Linked DNA regions of Homo sapiens: region 2 is linked to region 1. Evidence: fine-mapped expression QTL. Tissue or cell type: atrial appendage. Region 1 holds a variant in brackets; the other region holds the start of a gene. All regions are shown on one strand. Distances are between the middles of the regions.

What was found. PIP is the estimated chance that this variant, and not a neighbour inherited with it, causes the effect.
Region 2: ASTN2 starts here. The variant in region 1 is fine-mapped to the expression of ASTN2 in atrial appendage (GTEx, PIP above 0.99).

What each region holds. Positions count from the first base shown.
Region 1 is chr9:117,271,016-117,283,534 of GRCh38, reverse strand. The region is part of intron 2 of ASTN2 (astrotactin 2); the gene reads left to right. It also overlaps the pseudogene RN7SKP125. Among named protein-coding and RNA genes, the nearest start is that of SNORA70C, 96 kb to the right of the region's middle. The variant G/A (reference allele first, on the strand shown) is at 7,013.
Region 2 is chr9:117,408,950-117,421,468 of GRCh38, reverse strand. It overlaps ASTN2 (astrotactin 2), which reads left to right and starts at 6,412. Exons shown (of 23, transcript NM_001365068.1): 1 at 6,412-6,972. The coding sequence starts at 6,531.

The DNA.
Region 1 (12,519 bases):
AAGCTTATATCAATTGCCAAGGTATGATGAAGTTTTGTAACACAAATATCCCAAGTACTTTTTTACAAAAGTGGGACATACCCCATGAGTATCATTCACGTTTTTTTTTCCAGAAAGTAGAACTTTTAATATTGTAAGTATAGACTTTAAAAAATACTTTAAAATTTTAAGTCACATGAACCTTGTGGCTTGGTCTTGACTTGCTTCAACAACATGGTTTCACTAAAAGCCTGCAGGGTCTCTAGCTAGGCCTGTGGGCAAAGTAGGAAAATAAGCCATAGCTTCCATGTGTAGGAAATATAGGAAATGCTTATTTTTCACAACATTTAGAGATGCACCATAGCGAAGTAGAATGAGCATGGAATTTGGCTTCAGGAGGCCTGGTTTCAAGCTTAGACTTCCACATACCGGCTATAGAAATGCAGGCTAGTCATCTCACCTCTCTGAGTTTCTTGTGTGATCATTTGCAAAATGGAAATAAAATTAAAATCATAACATCAAACTTAATGCACATAAAACCATTTAGCAAGAGTTTCCAAAAAAAAAAAAAAACAGTAGAAGTATGAAATATAGTGGGATCTTGGAGCTGAAAACACCTGAGACCTCATAGAATATCCAACTCTTCCAGGCTAGTCAGCTCTTGCTTGTTTATTCTGCAAACAGACCACTCTAAATCATAGTGCCTTGGCCACACCATGCTTTACTTCTCATGCACCTTACACATCGGCAGCTGCAGTCACTGCAGGCTCAGCTCTGCTTGTCTTCTCCTTCTGGTACTTTGGCTGAAGGGGAGCCCCAGTTTGAAACATTTGGTTTTCATGGCAGAGGGAATGAGCAAGAGAGCTGGCAAAAATATAGGATGCCTCTTGAAACTGATGCTCAGATGTGGGTTCTCTCACATTCTATCGGCCAAAGCACATCACATGGCCAAGCCCAGAGCCAATGGCAGGGGTGTGCAATTCTTTTACAGGGGGTGCACATGCAAGCAATTGCCACAGCAATAGAATGTACCCCACCTTCATGTTGTAGATGGGGAAAATGAAGCTGGAGAATGGATGTTCTTCATCCCTGTCCCATTAGTGTGGGCCAATGATAAAGCCCAGATGGAAAAGTTTGACAAGGGTATCTTGGAGATGGCAAGAGGCAGCTCAGGAAAAGGGCCTGAAGGCAGTTCCACTGAACCTCCTGGCCAAAGCACAATGCAGAATAAGAACGTGTATAGCTATAGCTATGTATATATAATATGGACAGAGGGAAGCAGAAGAAAATACCGACAGAAACATCCAACCCATGTTGATTGAGAAACTATTCTATACTAGGTACGTTGAAATTACTAGAGACGGAGAGAAATAAAGAAGAAACTGAGAGAATGGGGCACCAAGGATGGGAGAGACATAGAAAAATAAAGGAGAATTGGCAAGAACAGACAGAAAGGGATTTAGCAACAAAAGCAGAGATGGGGGAAAATGAAACAGAGAATAAAAAGCATGGAGGAAGTGATACAGAGAGAAGAGAACAGGAAAAGAGAGAGACAGCGAGTAAGAGAAGCAGATGGAACTCAACCTCAAGAAAGGGCTGGGAGTCGGGTAGCGAGGTAGATGGAGTGAAGGGCGGGCAATCGGGGTGATCCGAGGCTGAGGAGGCAATCAAGCCCAGACAGCATCCAGCAGAGATGAGAGGGCTGGAGGCAGGGGCACCCAGCACTGTGGATCTGAGAAGAGGCCATGGCAGGGCAGGGTGGACTGGATTGCAACAGGGAGTCTGGGAGAAGGGAAGGAGAGGGGAGATCCAGAGACTGCAGGGAAGTAAAGTGGGGAGGGGCGGACAGGTTGGCAAGAGAGTCAGGGCGTGTGTCCCCTTGGTGACCATTCCCAACTTCCTCTGCCCCAGCCTCCTGTTCCACATTTTCCTCCCCTTCAAGAACCTGGGGCTTTTGTGTGGTATTTTAACAGCAACACAAAATGAATGCTGTGAGCACATTTGCAGTGAGGTTCACGCTGTTTACTCCCTTTCTCATATGCCCCAAATAAGCCCACAGTAAAAATGGAAAGTGAGCTTTGATTTGGATATATTGGAACTTCTGCCTCTCCCTTCAATTAATCCACCTTTCTCCCTCCTTCCCAGTCTTCAGAGCATAGCTTGATTTGGTGGGAATCACGTGGTTTTGGAGACAAGACAGATGAGGACTTAAACTGTGATTCTTTCCCTTACTGCTGTGTGTCCTTTGGCACATTACTGAACCTTTCTGAACCTCACTTTCTCCTGAGCTGTAAATGAGGCGAGAGATCCACATTCATGGGGCTGAGGGGAGGAATAAGTGATAAAAGGCTCATGAAGCATCAGCAAGGTGCCCAGGGAAGGTCCCTTTCTTCTCCTTTGGCCTCTAAAAATATTCTTCCTACTCTGTTATCGTTCTTGGCCTTCACAAACATCCTTTGAGCTATGTTGGGAGGTTATTAAGAATATTGACTTTAAAATACTGATATAAATAATTGACTAAATAAATAAATGGGGCAGAAAAGATTGCTCTTTCTTACAGTAGAATTCCAGTTAATAAATGTAGAAGGAAAGAGGGAAACAGAAAATCACCATTAGGCAATCACCACTGTAATAATTACTACTGACAAGATCCACTGATGTATACTAAAATTAATGGTGAAATTTTGAGAAGATATAGGGTATTTGTGGAGTCTCAAAGTGTCTCCCCCCAAGACATTTATTAATTACAGAAGGAAAATAGTGACTTTACAGTGGAGAAATCTGGCCGATACCACTTGTATTTGCTTCCTAAGGCTGCCGTGACAAATTACCATAATTTAAGAAGCTTAAGACAACAGAAATTTATTCTGTCACAGTTTTGGAGGCCAGAAGTCTGAAATCATGGTGTTGGCAGGGCCACACTCTCCCTGGGGCTCGAAGGGAGAATCCTGTCTTGCCTCTTCCAGCTTATGGTAGCTCTTGGTTTTCCTTGGTTTGGGCTATTGAACGCTAATTTCTACGTCCGCCTCCATACTACATTCTCCTGTGTCTTTTCTTCCATGCGCCTCTCATTAGGATGCTTGTCACTGGATTTAGGGTTCACCTTGATAACTCAGATTGTTATACATAAGATTTTTTTACTCAATTACATCTGCAAAGACCCTTTTTTCCAAATAAGATAACATTCACAAACTCCAGGGATTAGGGTGTGGGCATATCTTTCTGGGACCCACTATTCAACTGACCACACCACCTTAACCAAGTCATCAAAATTAACATCCTCACTCATCAGACACATTGACGTTATGAATCCACTGAAGTAATGCACTGATAAGGACAATGTCATTTCTGTGGGTTTCTTGCCAAAAATGTATAACCATTCTAATCATGAAAAAATATGGACAAACCCAATGATGGGCATTCTACAAAATAATTCACAAGCAATGGTCAAAAGTGTTAAGATCATAAACAACAAAAACAACAACAAGGAAAACAGTAATTGTCACAAATTGGAGGAAACTAGGGAGATATGACAACTAAATGCAATGTGGGATCCTGGACCAAAATAAAAACATTAGTGGAAAAACAAGGACATTAGTGAAAAAAATTAAAAAAATTAGTCCTTATGAGAGACACATGGAAGAGAAGGCACAGGGGAAGATGGTATGAAGATGGAGAGAGAAATGAGCATTATGTAGCCCAAGCCAAGGAAAACCAAGAGCTACCATAAGCTGGAAGAGGCATCATTTGTGAAACTTGTATAAGGTCTGTGGTTTAGTTAATAGTGTTGAATCATGGTTAATGTCCTGGTATTCATTATTTTATTATAGTTATGAAAAATGTTGACATTGGGGGAAGCTGAGTGAAGAGTACACAAGAGCTCTCTCCTAAATTTGCAACTTCCTGTGAGTCTATAATTCTTTCAAAATAAAAAGGCTAAAACCCAAAACAAGAATGTTGACTTTGGGACAGAACTGCCTGGATTGGAATCCTGGCCTCACCACGTAACTTGTAGAGTGACATTGGTTAAGTTACTTAACTTCTCTGTGCCTCTGTCTTCTCAACTGTAAAATGGTGAGAGTAATAGTTTCTACAGTTAAAAGTTGGTAAATATGCAAACTCTATACAAATGTTGTATTAATGATACTATTGATATTGCTGTTTTTACTGTTCCGTTTTCACAAATGATAAAACCAAGGTCTAGAAGGTTAAGACAACTCTCTAGTATGATCACATAGCCAGTGTCCGAGCCCAGAATTAAACATATATTTCTAGTTCCAAATGAGCTCTCTGCTCCATCTGCTGTATAATATTTCCTTTCTTATAGGGGGCAAGGATGGATAAGGACTTTTTAGGAGCTCATCTCCATAATCATCCAATTACGAGACTATGAGATATTGAGGCAAGCCTGACCCTGGACCATGGAAGAAGGCAGCCAGTTCTTTCTGGCCACAGATATTTAGAATTGATGAAAACAGAAATTTCTGATTTAATTCTCAAAAAACAAAAGCGTTTTAAAAACTCCAGTTCAACCCCTTTAATAGAGTGAAAATAAATACAAAAACAAAGCTTTTAGGTCTCAAAGGGTGACTCACGATGTCTTACAGCAGGTTGATGACAGAGCTGGCCTTCCCATCTAAATCTCAGGGCAGTGTGCCTGTGTCAGGCTATAAACTGCACCCAGCAGAAGGCCCCTTGCTCCATGCTGAGGGAGCCACTCACGCTGTAGGTTCAGCGCAACTACATTTCACTTCACTGTGGTAATCCTGTCTGCAAATCCACCGATACAGTCAAACAATTACCCAATTCAAACTTCGGCTGCTAATGTTCCCAGCTCAAGGGCGTCTTTAATAGCAAAATAACACTTGTTTTTTCTTCCTTCCTTCTCTGTTTTTTCCTAATCTCTCCCTGATGAGACATAACATTAATTACAGCAGTTAACAGAAATTCTGTCTCCATTACTGCCTGCCACCTTCTCCATCTTGGCTTCCGCCTCTAAAATTTCTCTCCTGAATGAAGAGGGGGAAGGGGTTAGGCAGATGTGGTGATGGTATTTATTTACCTTTTTCTCTGCTCACCTCCTTTGTGCTGAATTTTAAGTCAAGTAGAATCAATATTTTCACTGGGAGTGTGCGTGAGTGTGAATGTGTGTGTGTTGTTTGTGTGTGCCTGCTTCATAATCTAGCTGTCATTTTGAGCTAATTGTGTTGTTTCCTCTTGTGTGGAAGGAAATCTTATCTGTTTTGGATTAAAATTCAATGAAGGTCATAGTGGCTGGAAAACTTACCAGACTGCTGCAATTAATGTTCATTTGGCTTTGATAAATTGGAACGTTCTCCTCAATAGGACTGGAGTGGATTTCAGAAGCAATAATTCTTCCATTAATTCAATGATTCCGCCTGTGACGGAGGACCTTGTCCTGCTTTTGTTTGTCATCTGTCACTTGGAGGAGCTGGGCATATGTCAGAGATGATTTATCATGATTACAGCGCCTGCTTGTATTAAAGCATTTAAAACCACTAATTATTTTTACCCCCTGTAAATTGCTTTATTAAACAAAATGTGAGGTTGGAATTGAGGTAGAAAATTTTTTTGTGTCTATGTTTTCCACAGTTGAGGGATTATTACAAGTCATTTGCAAGAGCTAGGTGAAAATGAATCTATCAGAGAAATAATACCGAGCACTTACCATATGGTGGGGAATATGCAGGGAAGTTTATGTGCATTATTTTACTTATTTCTTGAAACAGTTATTTAGGGTAGTTTACCCAGATCACCTAGGAGGAGACTAAAATCCATAGATAATATATATTTCATCCTACATAAGCAACATAATATTGGTAACCAAGTGTCATGATTCTAAAGTCCTTGCACTACCACTATTACTAGGAGGTTTAAAAATTGCCTGATATTATTTTCTCCTGTTTACTGTTGGTATTTCACTAGGTGTGGAGCAGGATTTTCTTCCTACATAAGAATTACCTAGGGTGAAATTTCTGGATCATATGGTAGTTCCATTTTTAATTTTTTGAGGAATTTATCTACTGTTTTCCATAATGGCTGTACCAATGTACATTCCCACTAACAGGGCACCAAGGTTCCATTTCATTGAGTTATATACATTAAATATGCACAGCTTTTTACATGTTAATATATCTCATTGAAATGGTTTCAAGAATAAATTTACTACCACTACCAACAACAAAAAGAATTCTCTTGTGTGTTTGTTTAAAAGATAGTTTCCTGAACCTTACCCTATGTATGCCTGATCTGAACACCAATTAGAGGTTTTGGGGAATTTACAAAGGTGGAGAATCATAAACTTACAGCTCACTGAAAGCTTGTTTGGAGGTTCTAGCAGGGGCGTGCAGCTACTGTATGCCCTTGACCAAAAAACAGTCCTCCTCTATTGGGGATGGCCATCCTCTTCAACGGAGCATACAGCTTTGGGAGGGACACACATAGAGCAGTGAGGGGGGAAGAGGACACCTCCCTTGCCAGACAGATCAGCTGAATCAACCCTGGAGGTCAATGGAGTGACAGATGTTGCAGCCAGATCGCCCTCATGTCCACCTACAGTTCATCGAAACCATTAGGGGGAAAGTCACAGCCTTAACATGCTAATTTTTAAAATTATTATTTAATTCTCACAAAATCCCACCTGGCAAGCATTGATATCTCCATCTTATGGATTGGATCATTGTGGTACATCAAGTGAAATGGCCTTGCCCAAGACCACACAGCTAGGGAGAGACTGAGCTGGGATCCACATCCTGTGTTTGCTCTGTTGGCAGCAAAGCTCTTGCTTTCCCATGGCAGCCTTATCTCATCCCCCTCTCCCCCGCCCTTGTCTCTCTGTGCCCTCAGCCCTCCCTTCCTCCTCTAAAATTCTGCAGGGGTACAAGCACAAGCAGCTCCGGGCTTTCCCCATGGACACCCTCTTCGGTTCCTGTTTTATTACAGTCCTTATGTGTCCTGATGTTCCCCTAATGAAGTGTCCAGAGGCCTGCCCTGTCTCAGCTTTCCTTAATAG[G/A]GAGTGAAATATGTTGGTGGCTGTGCCAGAGGCTTTGTTTAGATGGTGTGTAAAGTCACCAGAGGCTGTCTGGGGGGAGATGAGGGTCAGTTCCTCTCTCTTGTGGTAGCAGATGTTCTCAGGTGAAGGATTCCCACTTGCAGGGAAGGTCTGGGCCATCAGAATGATTGCAACAGCCTAGTATGGGAGAGGAGAGTCTGTTGGACGGGATCTCTCAGCCTTTTGATAACCGTGTGATCTTGGGCTAGCTACTTGCCTTCTCCTGAGCCTTGGTTTCCTCAAATGTAAAGTAGTGCCAACAATAATACCTTCTCAAATAAAATCATTGTGAGGCATGGAAGCATCCATGTTAAGTACAGACTTGGTGCCTGATAAATAGAAATTTCTCAATAAATTGTAGCTGTTCTTGAAGCTCAAATGCTCTTGACCAACTAACATTAATAGAACATGATCCCATTTAAAATTTCATTAAAATCTCCTGACAATATATTAAGCAGGTGTTTTCAGTCAGAATGGCAGATATTATGGACTGAATTGTGTTCCCCTGCAAATTAATATGTTGAAGCTCAACCCCTAATGTGACTGTATTAGGAGATACAGCCTTTAAGGAGGTAATTAAGGTTATTTGGGGTTATAAGAGTGAGCTCCTAATCCAACAGGACTTGTGTCTTTATGAGAAGAGACACTAACTTTGGGAGGCCAACGCAGGCGAATTACTTGAGGATAAGAGTTCGAGTGAGAACAGCCTGGTCAACATGGCGAAACCCTGTCTCTACTAAAAATACAAAAATTAGCCAGGCATGGTGGCACATGCCTGTAATCACAGCTACTTGGGAGGCTGAGGCAGGAGAATCCCTTGAATCTGGGAGGCGGAGGTTGCAGTGAGCCAAGATTGCACCACTGCACTCCAGCCTGGGCAACAGAGTAAGACTCCGTCTCAAAAAAAAAAAAAAAAAAAGAGGGAGAGATAAAAGACATCAGTGAAAGCACACCCACAGCAGAGAAAGGGCCATGGGAAGACAGGGCAAGACGGTGTCCATCTCTAAGCCAGCAGAAGCCTTACCAGAAACCAATCCTGCTGGTGCCTCGATGTTAGACTTCCAGCCTCCAGAACTGTAAGAAAATAAAATTCTGTTGTTGAGGCCATCCAGTTTTTAGTATGCTGTGATGGCAGTGTGGGCAGACTAATACAGATTTTGGTACTGTGAAGTAAGGTGTTTCTGTAAAAAAAATTCCTAAAAATGTGAAAGTGGCTTTGGAATTAAGTAATGGGTAGAGGCCGCAAAGAGTTTTGAAGTGCATGTTGGAAAAGCCTAGGTTGCTTTGAAAACACTGTTGATAGAAAAAATGGATGCTAAAGGTGCATGTGGTGAGGTTTCTGATGGAAATGAGGAAGATGATATTGGAGAATAGAGGAAAGGCAGTCTTTGATATACAATGGCAAGAACTTTGGTGGTTAATGATTATTCACAGATGAAATGTGTAAGAATATACTCATTTTCTGGATGAAAAGCCTGAGATTGCTCAAGGTCACACAACCACCCAAAACCTAGATTCAGCCTTGAGCCCATGCTGTCTTCATTAGCATATTGATTAAGAAGCTCAACCCCTAACGTGACTGTATTAGGAGATATGGCCTTTAAGGAGGTAATAAGGTTATCTGGGGTTATAAGAGTGAGTTCCTAATCCAATTGGAAGAACAACTAACTCAGAGGAAAGGCCCACCCCTTTTGAAGACCATTTCTTGGCCTACTACTTGTATGACCTGGAAATAGTTGTCTAACCTGTCAGAACCTTACAGTGATGGAGTGAGGCCTTGATGAGATAACTTGAAAGAAGTTCTTGGTAACTCACCTATACGAAGTGCCATGGCACCTCCAGTGTTGTGAAGCCTTTCTTCATATCTCCAATATTCTGTTTTCTTGACTTTGAATTTAAGATGCTAACTCATATCTTCAAAGATTGTGTGGAATGAAATGAGATAAAGCAGGCACAATGCACAGGAGAGTGCCTGGCACATAATAGACACTGGGTTCATGGCCACTGTGATTATTATTACTGGTAGCCTCCCAAGAACCCTACAGATTAGAGATTCCTTAGCTTGGGAAGCCCTCAGATTAACCAAAGACAGGTGATGTTTTCTGGCCTGTTCCAACCCAGACTATTTTTTTTTGAGACGGAGTCTCGCTCTGTTGCTCAGGCTGGAGTGCAGTGGTGCGATCTTGGCTCACTGCAACCTCTACCTCCCAGAGTCAGGCGATTCTCCTGCCTCAGCCTCCTGAGTAGCTGGGATTACAGGCACATGTCACCACGTCCGGCTATTTTTTTGTATTTTTAGTAGAGACGGGGTTTCGCCATGTTAGCCAGGATGGTCTCGATCTCCTGACTTCATGATCCATCTGCCTTGGCCTCCCAAAGTGCTGGGATTACAGGCGTGAGCTACCACACCAGACCTCCACTCCAGACTTTTGTTGGGAGGCGCCTGAGTGGAGAAAGGCCCATAACCATGGGAGATAACAATTAGGGTCTCAGAGTCACCCAGGGGACTATCTTCTACTCCTCAGAAGGTGAAGATATGTCTGGCCTGACCAAGTGATGCAAAGTGAAAAATGAGGTTGTGACATAGCAACAACATCTGTGTCATCATTTCTGCACCAGGAGGTCAATTGGTTTGATAAACTGGGCTGCTGCCAGAGCAGTCTTTGTTTAGGAATTAATTAGGAGCCACAAAGAACTGCTGCTTGTGCAGATTTTGGTCTCTGGAAGTTATAAAAAGCAGATGGATTTTAAGCAAATGCGTTTTTCATCCTTTAACACCATGTGAAAGGGTATATATTAGAGCAGGTGGCATGGAGGAATGGGCAATGAAAATGGACACCTGAGCCATCCTGTTCTGCTTCTGTGTGCTCATGTGCATGGCCCCGTCTTTTTGGCTGCTGCTGTTTGTGCATCAGTAAAACTTTGTTATTAATAATACCATATCCTGAGTCTTTTTTATGTCCCAAGAATAGCACTAAACACTTCACACACTCGTCCCTTATCTAATCTCTACAGCACTCCATTGAGAAGGCTGTTGTTAACTAACCTTTACCTGTGAGAAAACTGAGGTTCAGGAGGGAAAACTCTTCTACTAGAATGGATGGAGCTCAGACTAGAGCCCTGATATGGTTTGGCTGTGTTCCTACCCAAATCTCAACTTGAATTGTATCTTCCAGAATTCCCATGTGTTGTGGGAAGGACCCAAGGGGAGGTAATTGAATCATGGGGGTTGATCTTTCTCATGCTATTCTCATGATAGTGAATAAGTCTCACAAGATCTGGTGGATTTATTGGGTTTCTACTTTTGCTTCTTCCTCATTTTCTCTTGCCACTGCCATGTAAGAAGTGCCTTTTGCCCTCCACCATGATTAAGAGACATCCCCAGCCATGTGGAACTGTAAGTCAAATTAAACCTCCTTTTCTTCCCAGCCTCAGGTATGTCTTTATCAGCGATGTGAAAAAGGACTAAAAATACAGTAAATTGGTACCAGTAGAGTGAGGAGTTGCTGAAAAGATAACTGAAAATGTGGAAGCGACTTTGGAACTGGGTAACAGGCAGAGATTGGAACAGTTGGAGGGCTGAGAAGAAGACAGTAAAATGTGGGAAAGTTTGGAACTTCCTAGAGATTTGTTGAATGGCTTTGACAAAACTGCTGATAGTGATATGAACAATAAGGTCCAGGCCGAGGTGGTCTCAGATGGTGATGAGGAACTTGTTGGGAACTGGTGCAAAGGTGACTCTTGTTATGTTTTAGTGAAGAGACTGGCAGCATTTTGCCCTTGCCCTAGAGATTTGTGGAACTTTGACTTGAGAGAGATGATTTAGGGTATCTGGTAGAAGAAATTTCTAAGCAGCAAAGCATTCAAGTGGCGACTTGGGTGCTGTTAAAAGCATTCCACTTTAAAAGGGAAACAGCATAACAGTTCAGAAAATTTGCAGCCTGATGATGCAGTGGAAAAGAAAAACCCATTTTTTTGAAGAGAAATTCAAGCTGGCTGCAGAAATTCACATAAGTAGCAAAGAGCCTAGTGTTAATCCCCAAGACCATGGGGAAAACATCTCCAGGACATGCCAGAGACCTTCACAGCAGCCCCTCCTATCACAGGCCCAGAGGCCCAGGAGGAAACAGTGGTTTGTGGGCTGGGCCCAGGGTCCTTGTGCTGTGTGCAGCCTAGGGACTTGGTGCCTGTGTCCCAGCCTCTCCAGCGTGGCTGAAAGGGGCCAATGTACAGCTCAGCCTGTGGCTTTAGAGGGTTGAAGCCCCAAGGCTTGGCAGCTTCCACATGGTGTTTAGCCTGCAGGTGCACAGAAGGCAAGAATTGAGGTTTGGGAACCTCTGCCTAGATTTCAGAAGACGTGTGGAAACGCCTTGAAGCCCAGGCAAAAGTTTGCTGCAGGGGCAGGGCCCTCATGGAGAACCTCTGCTATGGGAGTGTGGAAGAGAAACGTGGGGTTGGAGCCCCCACAGAGCATCCCTACTTGGGTACTGCCTAGTATAGCTGTGAGAAGAGGGCCACCATCCTTCAGACCCCAGAATGGAAGATCCATCAACAGCTTGTGCAGTGCACCTGGAAAAGCTGCAGACACTCAATGGCAGCCCATTAAAGCAGCTGGGAGGGAGGATATACCCTGCAAAGCCACAGGGGTGGAGCTGCCCAAGACGTTGGGAACCTACCTCTTGCATCAGCGTGACCTGGATTTGAGATCTGGAGTCAAAAGAGATCATTTTGGAGCTTTAAAATTTGACTGCCCTGCTGGATTTCAGACTTGCATAGGCCCTGTAACTTCTTTGTTTTGGCCAATCTCTCCCATTTGGAACAGCCGTGTTTACCCGATATCTGTACCCCATTGTGTCTAGGAAGTAACTACCTTGCTTTTGATTTTACAGGCTCATAGGTGGAAGGGACTTACCTTGTTTCAGATGAGACTTTGGACTGTGGACTTTGAGTTAACGCTGAAATGATTTAAGACTTTGAGGGACTGTGGAAGGCATGATTGGATTTGAAATGTAAGGACATGAGATTTGGAGGGGTCAGGGGCGGAATGATATGGTTTGGCTTTGTTCCCACCCAAATCTCAACTTGAATTGTATCTCCCAGAATTCCCACATGTTGTGGGAGCACCCAAGGGGAGGTAATCGAATCATAGGTGCTGGTCTTTCCCATGGTATTCTCATGACAGTGAATAAGTCTCATGAGATCTGGTGGGTTTATTGGGGTTTCTGCTTTTTCTTCTTCCTCATTTTCTCTTGCTGCCACCACGTAAGAAGAGCCTTTCACCCTCCATCATGATTATGAGGTGTCCCCAGCCATGTGGAACTGTAAGTCAAATTAAACCTCCTTTTCTTCCCAGTCTCTGGTGTGTCTTTATCAGCAGCATAAAAATGGACTGATACAAGTCCAGGATGTGGGAATCCCAGGTCTGTGCTAGTAGCCGCTATGCTAAAATAACATTTTCTCATCTTCCT
Region 2 (12,519 bases), 140 kb before region 1:
GGAAACTCGAATAGGTTAAATGATTAAGTAGGCAAAAAGGTACAGAGATTTGGGTACAAGCAAATGAATGATGAAGATGAATTAAACTTGAGTGGACTTGAGAAAGAAAATGCAAAAGAATGAGTGAGGAAAGAGACTTTTAGGAGTATTGTGAGGATTTTGACTATAAAAGGATATGAAATGAAGGCAGTAAATCACAGAACAAGAAGGGGTTGATTTAGAGGACCGGGGACAGACAAAGTGGGAGGTAGTGAAAGGTATGAGCTGGAGAAAAAAGATAATAAATTTGAGAATTGTTAAGGGAAAGAGTCAGAGAAGTGCTGGGTTGAAGCAGAAATCAGTCAAACAGATGCAAGTGGAAATGAAGAACGACAATGGTGATTAAAATATTCTTTCATTTTTCACGAAAGAGAAGTTAGAGACAATGGTAAAAGTTTGCTCTAAATGAGACATAGTGGAAATGTTCTGAAAATGGAAATGAGAAGTGGAGAGATGAATGCAAAGAGACAGAGGTCACAGAAGGACCAAATAAATAGACATTTGGAGGTGGAAAGTAGCTACTAGTACTGATGACCTACTATGTGCCAGACAGCACCAGACACTTTTTTTCTCTTTTTTCTTTTTCTTTTTCTTTTCTTTTTTTTCTTTTCTTTTTTTTTGAGATGGAGTCTAGCTCTGTCGCCCAGGCTGGAGTGCGGTGGCCCGATCTCGGCTGACTGTAACCTCTGCCTCCTGCGTTCACACAATTCTCCTGCTTCAGCCCCCCGAGTAGCTGGGATTACAGGCATGCCACCACACCCAGCTAATTTTTTTTTGTATTTTTAGTAGAGACGGGGTTTGATCATGTTGGCCAGGCTGTTCTCAAACTCCTGGCCTCAAGTAATCCGCCCACCTCTGCCTCTCAAAGTGCTGGGATTAGAGGCGTGAGTCACTGCACCTGGTCAGCACTAGATACTTTCATTTACACCTGCTGGCTCATTCAGCCTTCCCATTACCTCCATTTATAGGTGAGGAAATTAAGTCTAAAAGAGGTTATGAGTCTCATTAAAAATCAGCAAACTAGTAAGTGGTAGAGAAAATAACTTGAACTTAACTCACCAGAAGGTTTCAAAGAATTAAATAACAGTGATAACCATATTTACAGCAGTGTATTTTGGATCCTGCAACAATAAAAATAAAAGCTTCAGGATTGACCTTAGTTTTGTCACTGATGCCAAACTAGATGACGGTGCTGAGTTCGGCATAGGTCAAGATGCTAAGAGGTTGGCAGAACTCAGGTCAAGAGAGTGTCTAGAGCAAGGTGACTGAAGGGAATGAAGAGAAATGGGATACGCTGAGTGATAAATGGAGTCAACATGCTGCAGAGAGCAAAGCACGATTAAAAGGACAATATGAGTTACGGAGAAGGCAGTGATTGAACAAGAGAAAACAAATGGTGGAGATTCGTGGACAGGAAAAGGATTGATGGAAGATTGAGCTTAGATAGAGCAGAGATGGAGCAGAAGATGGCACTCTCTTTTCCTCAATTAGAGTTTATTTATGTTCTAGAGATCATCTGGAGGCTTAAGAAGAAAGACTGTTAAAAAGAATTACTTGAATCATGGGAAGCTGAGAAGGGAGGATGGAAGGAAAGAAGGAAAGGAAAGGAAGAAGGGAAGGAAGAATTGACAGACGGAGGATGGGGGAAGGTTTTTGTTGTAAAATTTAAATTATATTCTCTGTGAAAGTGCAGCTAATGCGAAAACAGTGCCTGTCTCAGTAAAAATTCAATAAATATGTGATGGTTCATTGGCAAAATACTTATTTTGCATCTCTACCCTATGTAGGTTACTGTACTAGCTGGTGTGCACACTGCGGTAAGCAAGACATAGTTGGTCTTTGATATCTGGCAGCTCCCAATCTAGTAAGGAACATACGCACCAAGAAAATGCTCTAATAAATGGACAATTATTGAAATATGGAATGAGTACAATTAAAATGGTTATAAAGAAATATGAAAGGATGTAACAGAAAGTACAGCAAGAGGCTAACTTAGGCTGGGTGGGTGGTCACGTTAGGGAAAGTGCTTTGATTAGCAAAACTTATAGACTAGCAAAAGATAGCTAGTGAAGACGGAGGGAGGTCTCTCCAGGCAGAAGAAAGAGTCCGTTTGAAGATGCTGGGGCAACAAGAGCTTGAAGTATTTCGGGAACAGAAAAGAGATCAATATGGTTGGAATCAAGTGGTGGTGGTGGGGATTATGGGACATGAGGCTGGAGTGGAAAACAGTGGGTGAGATCCGTAAGATGATTGGATTTACTTACAACATTCAAGAGAGCCTCATATGTGCTAGACAGTTTCATACACATCATCTCATTTAATTCACACAGTGATCCTGAGAAGTGGGTACTACTTTCCCCATTTCACAAATGAGAAAAGAAAAGACCTAGTAGGAACTATAAAGTGACTTGACTCCATAGAGAAATAGCAAAGATGATTTCTAAACGAAAATCAACCAGCCTCTTGGGCCTCTGGCTTTTTCAACTACATTAGGATGCCTCAGTCAGGTGGCATAAATACAAGGGATTTTTAAAACAGAGTAGAGTATGGAGAAGGGGGAAGCAGGAAAGAAAAAATATTTCAAAACTACCTAGAAAGGCAAATATGAAAGATGAAAGAAGAGGAAGTATTTGCTAGAAAGACTGGAAAGGAGTTAGAATGAAAAAAATTTTGTATCAGTGGAGTCAAAGATGGGAGTACAGGGGACTGTAAAAGAGAAAGAATTGAATCAATAATGAAATATAACTGAACAAAGAGGGGAAAGGAGAAGGAGTGTGAGGGGCTGAGAGGGAGAAAAGTGGTGGTCATAGGACAGGGGACTCGAGTATGAGTAGGGAAGTTATAGTATACTGGGAATAAGTTGCATGCAAAGGGCTGAGGCCAGGAGGGGCATTCTGTGACAGACAGAGCAAAGATTTGGGAGCCAGGCATTCTTGTATTTCACCACTTGATAACTCCATGACCAAAATCAAGTTTCTCAGCTTCCCTGAGCCTCCGATTTCATACCTATAAAATAGGGATAAAAAGCCTTGCTCCAAATGTTGCTGAGATTATACATCAAAGCAGTAGTTATAATTTATTGAGCAGCTATTATGTGTTAAATGCTTTGTATAATTATTTCTAAAGCCTCACAACCACCATAAGGCAACAGTTGTTATCATCATTCATTGATATGCTACAAAAAGTTTTGGATCACAGAGCATGTGTTCAGAAGTATAAGTCATTTCCTGTGGACATTCCAGATTTGACACTGTCTGTGATATAAAGTTGGTACTCCTTGTCTGCCTTTTCTGTCTTGTCTTCAGTTACTCCCTCTCCCCCTCACTGAGCTTCATTTCCCATCATACACCTTGCTGTCTCTGCCCTCCCTTTGTTTCCACATTCTGTGTTCTCAGCCAGGTGTTTCAGTTGCAAGCAACAGAAAGCAATCCTGAATAATTTAAGCAGAAAGAGAATTCAGAATTCAGTTAAGTGATTATTAGATTCCTTAGAATCTCCAGAAAGGCATGGGATCTGGGTTTAAAGTGCATGAAGTCAAGAGCACCACTCCAAATCATAGCACAGAACTGTATGGGTGAAGATATGTTTCAGCTGCAGCCAAGCATAAATAAAAGGCACTTCACACTGTTGACATTGATATCACTGGGCTCCAAACAGTGCTATTAGAACCTTTTCGACTAGCAGAGACACCTGGATGTAACTGCCCCAACTATTGCCCTTTTAGCCGCCACTGGATTCTGCCTGATTCCGGCTTATTTTTCAGCATCTGGGGTGGGTGAATCTAACTGGTGAAGCCTGGGTCATGTGCCCAAGCTCTAGCTGCAGTGGAGGCTGAGAAAGTATCCAGAAATGTTAGCTTCTTCATGGGAGGTGGGCTGTGCCTTAAAAGATAAAACATTCTCTGATGTAGGAAAGGGATTTATTCATTTACTAAGCAGTTGCAAAGAATGCCAAATGCCAACTTTAACCTAGAATGCCCACTCCCTTGTTACTAATCTTTATGGTTCAATTCCAAAGCCACCGCCTCTGGGAAGCTTTCTTTGATTTCTCCAAGTACCTCATCTTAGGAAACACATGTCTGCCTGCCTGCCCATTACCTGAGATATTTATGTGCCTGTCTCTTTCCGGCATCCCACCCCCTCACCCCAATCATTATAAGCTTTCCAAAGGCAGGAGTTGTGTTTATCCATCCCTGCATCTCCATATAGCACCTGGTAGGCACCCTGAATATTTGGTGATGAATGAATGAATGAATGAAAGTGTTGGTCTCATTTGACAGGCCTTTGTACTAGAGGTCCATGAAGGACTTGCACAGACTCTGCCTTACATAAGGGAGCCCTTTTTTCCTGGTGTGCTCTTCTGTAAATGGACTATGTCAGCATATTTGAAGAAAGGGGCATAGAGAATCAGAAAGCCCCATTGCGGTGGATAGTGGCGGATTGTAAGGACACAAAGGAGAGACTGAGGGAGGCAGGGTGACATATTTTGGAGGAGTAAATGAACTAGAGCAGGCATCAGAGAGGCAGGAGACCATTTAGAATTAGAGGACTTGAAAGGCCAGATTCCACCCCAACCTCCACACATCCTTTGGGTTCACAGATTAGTAAACTGAGACAGGAGAAGTATACCTTACAAACCTCACAGGGAAGTAGATCCAACTGTGCTTATGCAGATTTACCTTTTACAGCATCTTTGATGGGTGGGGTTTTCCAAGGTCACTGAGGACAGTGTAATTTAAGGGAAACAGTCAAGGCTTGAAGCCTACTGTTCAAACCTCAGCTCTTCAGCTCATTTGCTATACGACCTTGGAAAATCCCTTCACCTCCCTGACCACCTGATCTCAGTTTCCTCACATGGAAAATGGGAATCATAATATCCATCTTTTTGGATTATGGTCATGTAAAAAAGCTAACATACGTACATGTCTAGCATTTGGAGAATGCTTTAAACACATTAAGTCCAAGGTCGCAAAACAGCTTTTGCTTTTTTCCTTATTTTCAGTGCTCTGCCTTTATCCAACGTTATTAAAAAATATATGATGAGAGAGGAGAAAAGCAATTTATATGAAGGGTTAAAGATAGAAAAGGGGAATGAGACAGAAGAGGGAAGAGCTAAGAGAAAAGTGAATGCATAGAGACAGCACAAAAGGTGCAGATGGGTAAGCTAGACAGAGATGAGAAGTTGCTCACAAATTATAGGAAAGAAGCATTTGTAAGATTAAAGTCAAGATGAGAAGGAAGGAAATGAATGGAGAGATGAAACAGAAAACAGAGACAGGGAAGATGAAGAAAAGTAGGGGAGTGGGGAAGGGGCTGCACGGCACTTGACCCATGCAGAGGTGTCCGCTCCCTGGAGGGTCTCAGGTATGTGGGTCAGAGACAGAGTCAGCCCAAGACCAAAGGGTGCTGAATCTGAGGACCTAGCTCAACTTGAGTCTAGAAAGACTGCAGGTGAAGAATTGGTGAGCACTCCCGTTCTCTGGGACTTGGGCAGAGGATCTAAAAGACCCGGGAGCCAAGGACAGACAGAATAGTAGGTCTCTACCTCACACCCTTTTCAGGAATTTCACACAGAGAGCAGAAGCAGCCAAGTAGAGCTGCTCCAAGCTGGGAGCAGGGATCCAAAATAAAAAAGCGTGAGTGGGCTGGCTTGCAGGGCGGCAGCTAGGGGGCCAGAACAGCCCGGCTTCAGTCAGTTGTGGGGTCGGCGTTAGACGGTGGAGTTCGACGCCCCTCTGTCCATTAGCAATTAGTGCTAGCACAAGGCCTGGATGGAGGGGAGAGGAAGGTTTGCGGGCAGTGGGAGAATGAATGCAGGAGTTGTGGCCAAGTGGGTGGGAAGGGGGCTCTGAGGCTACAGGAAGTTATTTCAGAGACTAGAAAAGGGTAGGAGATTGGAGAAAGGACTTGTTCTTGGGCCTGAGGGGAGACAAAGTTAAGTCTTGGCTATCCAGGGGGCTCCCTATCCCCAAGAAGGCGGGGCCTTGAGCAAGGCTGGGCCAAGGCGCGCCCCCAGGTGCAGCCTCTGGGTTGAGCCGAAGGTGGGGTGAAGCCAGGAGAACTGGGTTGAGTCAGGGGGGCTTGGGGGGGCCCGAGGGGGCCCTAAGTATTAGGAATTTGGGGAGTTTAGGGAGGGGTGTTGTGGCTAAAGAATGCTGTGAGGGCGGAATTGGGGGATCTTGGGAAAGGGGAGGGAGCCACTGGGACTTGCACGAGGCCGGGCGGAGCCTCCGAAACGCTCGGGGTCTGCGGGGGGAGCCGGAGATCGGGGACGGGCGGCTGGGCCCCGGGAGGCGGCGCGGGGGGGCGGTCCAGGGCCGATCGGGAGGCGGAGCCCGGAGCTGGGGGCTGCTGGCGAGCGGCTCTCTCCGCTCCTTAGCTCGGGCGTCCTGGTTCGCTTCGGCGTCCGCCGTCTCCGCAGCTGCCTCCTCTTCCTCCTTCGCCACCGCCGCCACCGCCGCCGCCGCCCGCAGCACCGCAGCCCCTCCCGCCATGGCCGCCGCCGGCGCCCGGCTCAGCCCCGGCCCCGGCTCGGGGCTCCGGGGGCGGCCGAGGCTCTGCTTCCACCCGGGGCCGCCGCCACTGCTGCCGCTGCTGCTGCTGTTCCTGCTCCTGCTGCCGCCGCCGCCGCTGCTGGCCGGCGCCACCGCCGCTGCCTCGCGGGAGCCCGACAGCCCGTGCCGGCTGAAGACCGTCACGGTGTCCACACTGCCCGCCCTGCGGGAGAGCGACATCGGCTGGAGCGGCGCCCGCGCCGGGGCCGGGGCTGGGACCGGGGCCGGAGCCGCCGCCGCCGCCGCGTCCCCGGGCTCTCCTGGCTCTGCCGGCACCGCCGCCGAGTCGCGCCTCCTGCTCTTTGTGCGTAACGAGCTGCCGGGGCGCATCGCGGTGCAGGACGACCTGGACAACACCGAGCTGCCCTTCTTCACCCTGGGTAAGGCTGGGCGCCGGCACGCGCTAGATCCCAAGGAACCCCGAGCCCCTGCGTCATGCCGGACGGGTGGGGGCGCCCTGGGGATCCCTGCCCGGGGCTGCCCCGAGTGGGGTTGGCAGAGGGTAGAGGAGGGGCCCAGAGGTCGCACAGGTGGTTGGAAACGAGCATGTGGGAGGAGGTCCTGGAGAGCGCGCGGCGGGAGCCTGGGGGCGTGCCAACCCTCCCGCAGTGGGAACCTGCCCCTCTGCCTCTCAGTCCCGACCTGGAGCTCTGCTTGATCCATCCCGGAAGCCGGAGACCCCATTCACTGAAGGTGCTCTGGCTAGGGGCCGGAGCATCCCAGATCCTAAGCCAGTTTCAGGTCGAGCCTCCCACTTCTCCGGGTACCGTCACTGGCCACCCGCCGTCACCGCCCCCTCGCTCTCGCCTCGGAGTTGCGGGTTCTGCCCTTCCAGATGGATTTTCATGAGAGTAGGAATGGAGTAGTTCCGTGTGGAATCGCTCAACCCGCAAAAGCGTGGCTTCCGCATGGGCTGAGTGACCTTGGCCAAGTCGCTTCCCTTCTCTGAGCCTCAGTTCTGGCCATCTGTGAAATAGGGCTGGAGAGACTTGAGTGGTTGCTGAGAACTGGGATTCCGACTCCGAGGTCTCCACGTTTAGAGCCTCCCTCTACCCCCGTTACCGCCTTCCCTTTCTACCCACCTCCAGGCAGAGAGCCGGTTTGTCCTTGCAGCTCACTCCCTGGGCTAATAATAATTACTTAAAGGCAAGAAAAAGGAGAGGAGAGGAGATGGGTGTGGGTGGGGGGCTCCAACGGAAAAGTTAATCAGAAAAGTTCGCCAGCAGCTTGCTGCCTGCTGGTTCCCTGCGCGAATCCCGGAGGAGTCGGCCCTTCAGTGGAGCTGTGGGAAGCGCAGCTGATTTCCCACCCGGGTAATTGATAGCTTAATTATCTCGGAGAGCGTTTACAAAAATGTTGTTCCCCTTAGCTCTCCCGCGCTCGCTGCTTGCTCGCTCTCCCCTCCCCTCTTGGGGGCGCGGGGCCTTATTGGTTGTCGGAGTCTGGCCAACAACAGCGCCCGTGAGGCGCCAGGGGCTCGCCCAGACCCGGAGCTCTTCTTCCCCGGGTCTTTTCCTCGGCGGGATCCGCCTCGGGCACCGCAGGTGAGGGGCCTTCCAGGTGAGAACCTTTACGATCCCTGAACTTCCGAGGTTAACTCCTTGCTCGCCTGAAAAGACCCACAGAATAATCAGCGGACTACGCTCCACTCTCCTGGTAGCCCTGATATTGTTAAAAGTATTTTTGTGACCCACTCCCCATCCTTTCATGCTACCACCTCTGGGGATTTGAGCGAGTGCCAGTGGTTCTCCCGCTCTGAGCTTGAACCTCGGGGGTCGAGCCCCTGTACCCACCCTCGCAGGCTGTAACCTGAGCGTGCCGAGCGTTCCGGGAGGAGAGGCAGCGGAGCGTCCTGCAGGTTCCTCGGGGACTCCCCGCGGCGGCGCTTCTGGGGTGCGACGCACCAAGCACACACACACAGACACACACAAACCAGTAGCTCTTCCCACGTGCACCTGTGGGGCTGCCCATGTCCGAGAAAGGGAAGGAGGGTGGAGGTGGTGTTCCTTAGAGCGCCGCCGGACTAACCTCAGGCTCACAGCTGGCTCTTGCCACCTCCCCGTGGGGAAGGGTCTTTCTAGAGACACAGAAGGTATCCCTTCACTACCACTTCCATTCCTGACCTTCTCCCTTCATCCTTTAGATCTCTCTACTCCGGGGTACTCTGAGAGATGAGGGGTGGAAATCCTCCCGCCCCCCAAACGGCCATTCAAGTGAAGGGATGAGACGGTCCTTGGGTATGGCCTGACTTGGCAGTGAGGACCACAGAGCATTTCAAGTCTTCGAGGATATGGAGGACCTGCTCCAACCATCTGTATAGGTGCCCCGGGATTCCTGGAACTGACAATCTTTGCCATTTTTAACTTTGGCTTTCAAACAGGATGGGTGCCTGTGAGCCTGGGACAAGCTGAGTGAGGACCTGAGCGAGGAATTAGAAGTCTTGATTCCCCCAGGACCCATGTGTTGCTTGAGAGTCTCCTGGCAACAACCTGCACATGGAGACTTCCCCCTCCTCTGATGCACGGTCCCTGAGCCTGGCAGCTTGGGACCCTCTGCCCCTTGGAGAGCACGGGGCTGGCCTCCTTGGCAGCGCTGAGCCTTTTGGATGCATGCGGGGGATTGGGTTCTTGCCTCCTCCTTTTCCCCCTAGCGCCCTGGGCTGGCAGCTTTAGGCGCTCTCAACGGGGATTTGGCTAGCGAGGTAGTCACCAGATGGCTGGGTATAGCAGGAGCTGTGTAGGGAGACGTGGGATTTTTATTTGTGTTGGTCTTCCACTGTTTGTGTGTAAACACAGAGTGCACAATGAGTTCTGGGAGGACCTAGCTGGCCGGAAATGAGAGTTGGTGCCCGCTGGGGGTTGGGGGGGGGAGGGGTGAGGTGGGGGTGGTGGTAGGGGTGGGGTTGGGGCTGATACTATGAGACATTTATGGCCATCTCTTTCTAGTGTCCCAAGGCAGCCCCATCCCATCCCCAGACTTTTAAACATCCTGCCTAACGTTTGTCTCTGGCGAGTTGGGCAGCTTTCACTATCAGCTTATCAGTTCAGGGGATACGGACATGGCCAGTGCCACAGCTGAGCATGCAAAGTTGGTAAATGCCAAACTCTGCCAATAGTGGGGAGTGTGGAGCTACCACTAGGGGGTGATGGTGTCCACCAAAGCCCTCTGGTCACTTTGGGTCCTGGGACCAGAATTAGTGGTGGTAAACCATCCCTGGTATTAAAGGGGGACAAACAAAAAGAAGAATTCTTAGTTTATTCAAACTCCAGTGGGGGACCTCAAGGTAATTTTGCATGCACTATCTCCCATCTGCGTGCACCAAGGTCACCTTCATATTTAACCCTGGCTCCCTCCATTCTGCCTCTTTTGTTTCTGTTATTGGTAATGCCCAGACTGGAAGCAAGTCTTTTTTTTTTTTTTTTTTTTTTTTGCAGATCCTTTCCTTTTTGTATTTCTAGTCTCCCTATCAAATTTCAGCCTGCCTTAAGTAAATGGAAGTTTCCTTCAGTTGTGAACTATCTCCAAAGTTTGTTTGCCTGGGATTCTTCTTTAGAATCTGATTATAAGTCAATGACATTGACAAAGTGAATCTCCCTGAAAGTGATCAAAGAATAGCAAATAGTTATTGAATCCTTAATGTGATGCTAAGAGCTTTCTTCCTGCCTTGTATTATTAATTTACATAACATATATGGAGTGGGCTCTACTGTTACTCCCATTTGCCAGATGAGGAAGTATTTTTAGAGAGGTCAAACGCGTAATCCAAAGTCATGCCAGGAATCAATGGCAGACCTGGAACTGGAATCCTGGTCTGCCAGACACCTACATTCTTGTAGGTTGCTAAACTGGTATTCTGAACCAAATATGAAGTTTATGCAGGTTATGGTGCTGAATAGAGAGGGATAACAATCATCAAGATTGTTAGACAAGAGCTTTTCTCCAAAGGAACTTCAGCTACCTTGGTGAGCTGACCTATGTAAGTTTGAAACTGAAATATGAGTTAAATGACATCCAATGACCCTTCCAGCTCAAAGTTTCATGACTCTTGGATGTCAAAGGGCATTTTATTTATTGGTGCCAATGAGTGATGGAGATGATACATTCTGTAGCATCAGGGAAGGAAGGCATCTCTGTAGAATTGGAGAAGACTGGGGGCACTTTCTGGACCAGAAAGAACCTGAACTAGGCCTTGGAGGATTTAATAGGCAAAATGAGGAAAAGTGGAATGCTAAAATGCAGCTTAGAAATTTAACGCTGGTTAGGATCTGGAAATCTCAGCTTTGGCTCACTGTGACCTTGAATAAGTCATTTATCCCCCAGAGCTTCAATTCTTTCTGCTGCAATATGAGTGGGTAGATGAGCTCTAAAATAATCCTTTCGTGTAAAGATTCTATGAACTTGAAGTGCCCTGACCTACTCCATGACTCTGATAGCTCCTCTTGCTTTGTACTGTCTGTTTTCCTTTACTGGTAACATGAGGGTGGTGGGAAGGACTGATAGAAAAGAAAGAATTTGAGCAGGAACAACTGCCAGCCCAGGGCTTCTAAGGTGAACCTGTATGTCATTCAGTCCTCACTTACCTCCAGGCAGCCCCCGGGGTCTGCTTGTGGATTTAGCTTTCATGCCCACAGGTAGGGAAATGTCATCCTTCTTGCTGTGCTTGATAGTGGTCAGGCAAGACTGTTTACTACCTGCTTTGATTCAGCAAAAGCAGGAAAAAGCAATAAAATTGAATAAGCACTCATTGTCAACATTTTTTAGTAATTTGCTTTGCCATATCAACCTGACAGGAGAGGCGTGTGATCTGTATTTGGGGGAGGGAGTGTGAAGAAAGAAAAGCTATTCATTAGTCTGTGTTAAGTACACCTGCATGCGTAGAGCTGGCGGGGTCCCAAAGGACCATCCCAAAGGCTGCTTTATGCAAGAAGCTGATGGCCTGGAAGAAGGAGGAAGATACGGTTTGAAATGCCAACTTGTTCAGGTCAGCAAATGTTCCTTGAAGGAGTGAGGTGCCAGGAACCTGGCCAGAAGAATGGTTGGGAGAAGGGAGTTTAGCCACAGAGGGCTGGAGAAGCTTCCTTTAAATGTCAACAATGAGCTGAGTGTGGTGGCTACTTGGGAGGCTGAAGCAGGAGGATCACTTATGCCCAGGAGTTTGAGGCTTCAGTGAGCTGTGCCCATACCACAGCACTCCAGCCTGTGTGGCAGGGGGAGACCCTGTCCCTAAAGAAAAGTCTACACAAATTAAGAGTATGTTTTCTGTTGGAGAAGGGGAGGGTGTCTGATTCTAACGAATGTCTTGAAAGATCTGAGAGGATAGAGCTGAGCCCTACAGGAGGCTGTGTCCCCTGGAGCTGTCCAACAACCCAGTATGCTGACCCCTAACGGTAATACAATCCACCTTGTAGGTATTCAAGCACAGACTGGACCTCCGTTTGGCAGACATTCGAAGAATGGACCCACTTCCTTGCAGACCGTTGTATACCCTTATTGCTTTCTGGTTTGGTTCTAAAGGTGGACAATGAGTGCTTACTCAATTTTGCTTTTACCTCCTTTTGCTGAATCAAAGCAGATGGTAATTTTTTTGGAGGGAGGAAAAAATCCTTATAAATAGTCATGAGCTGTGTCTTCTCTAGGGGTTTCTGACCACAGAATGTTCATTAGCATCAATTCCACTTTTTTTTCTTATGTGTGAGAGAAAGATTCTGGGATGGAGAAGCAAGAAAATTTGATTTCTTGAGAGAAAGATAGGATTAAAACAATGTATGTTATTTCTTCATTTGGTCACCAAGTCCTTTACTGCTAATTGAGATATTTGGTTAGCAGTCAAACTTCAAGTTCCCATCTTGGTGTGATGGTCTAGGTTTCTGGGACATTATAAACAAGGGTCTTGGGGGAGGTGGTGTTTAGTGGCCTCTGATCTAATTC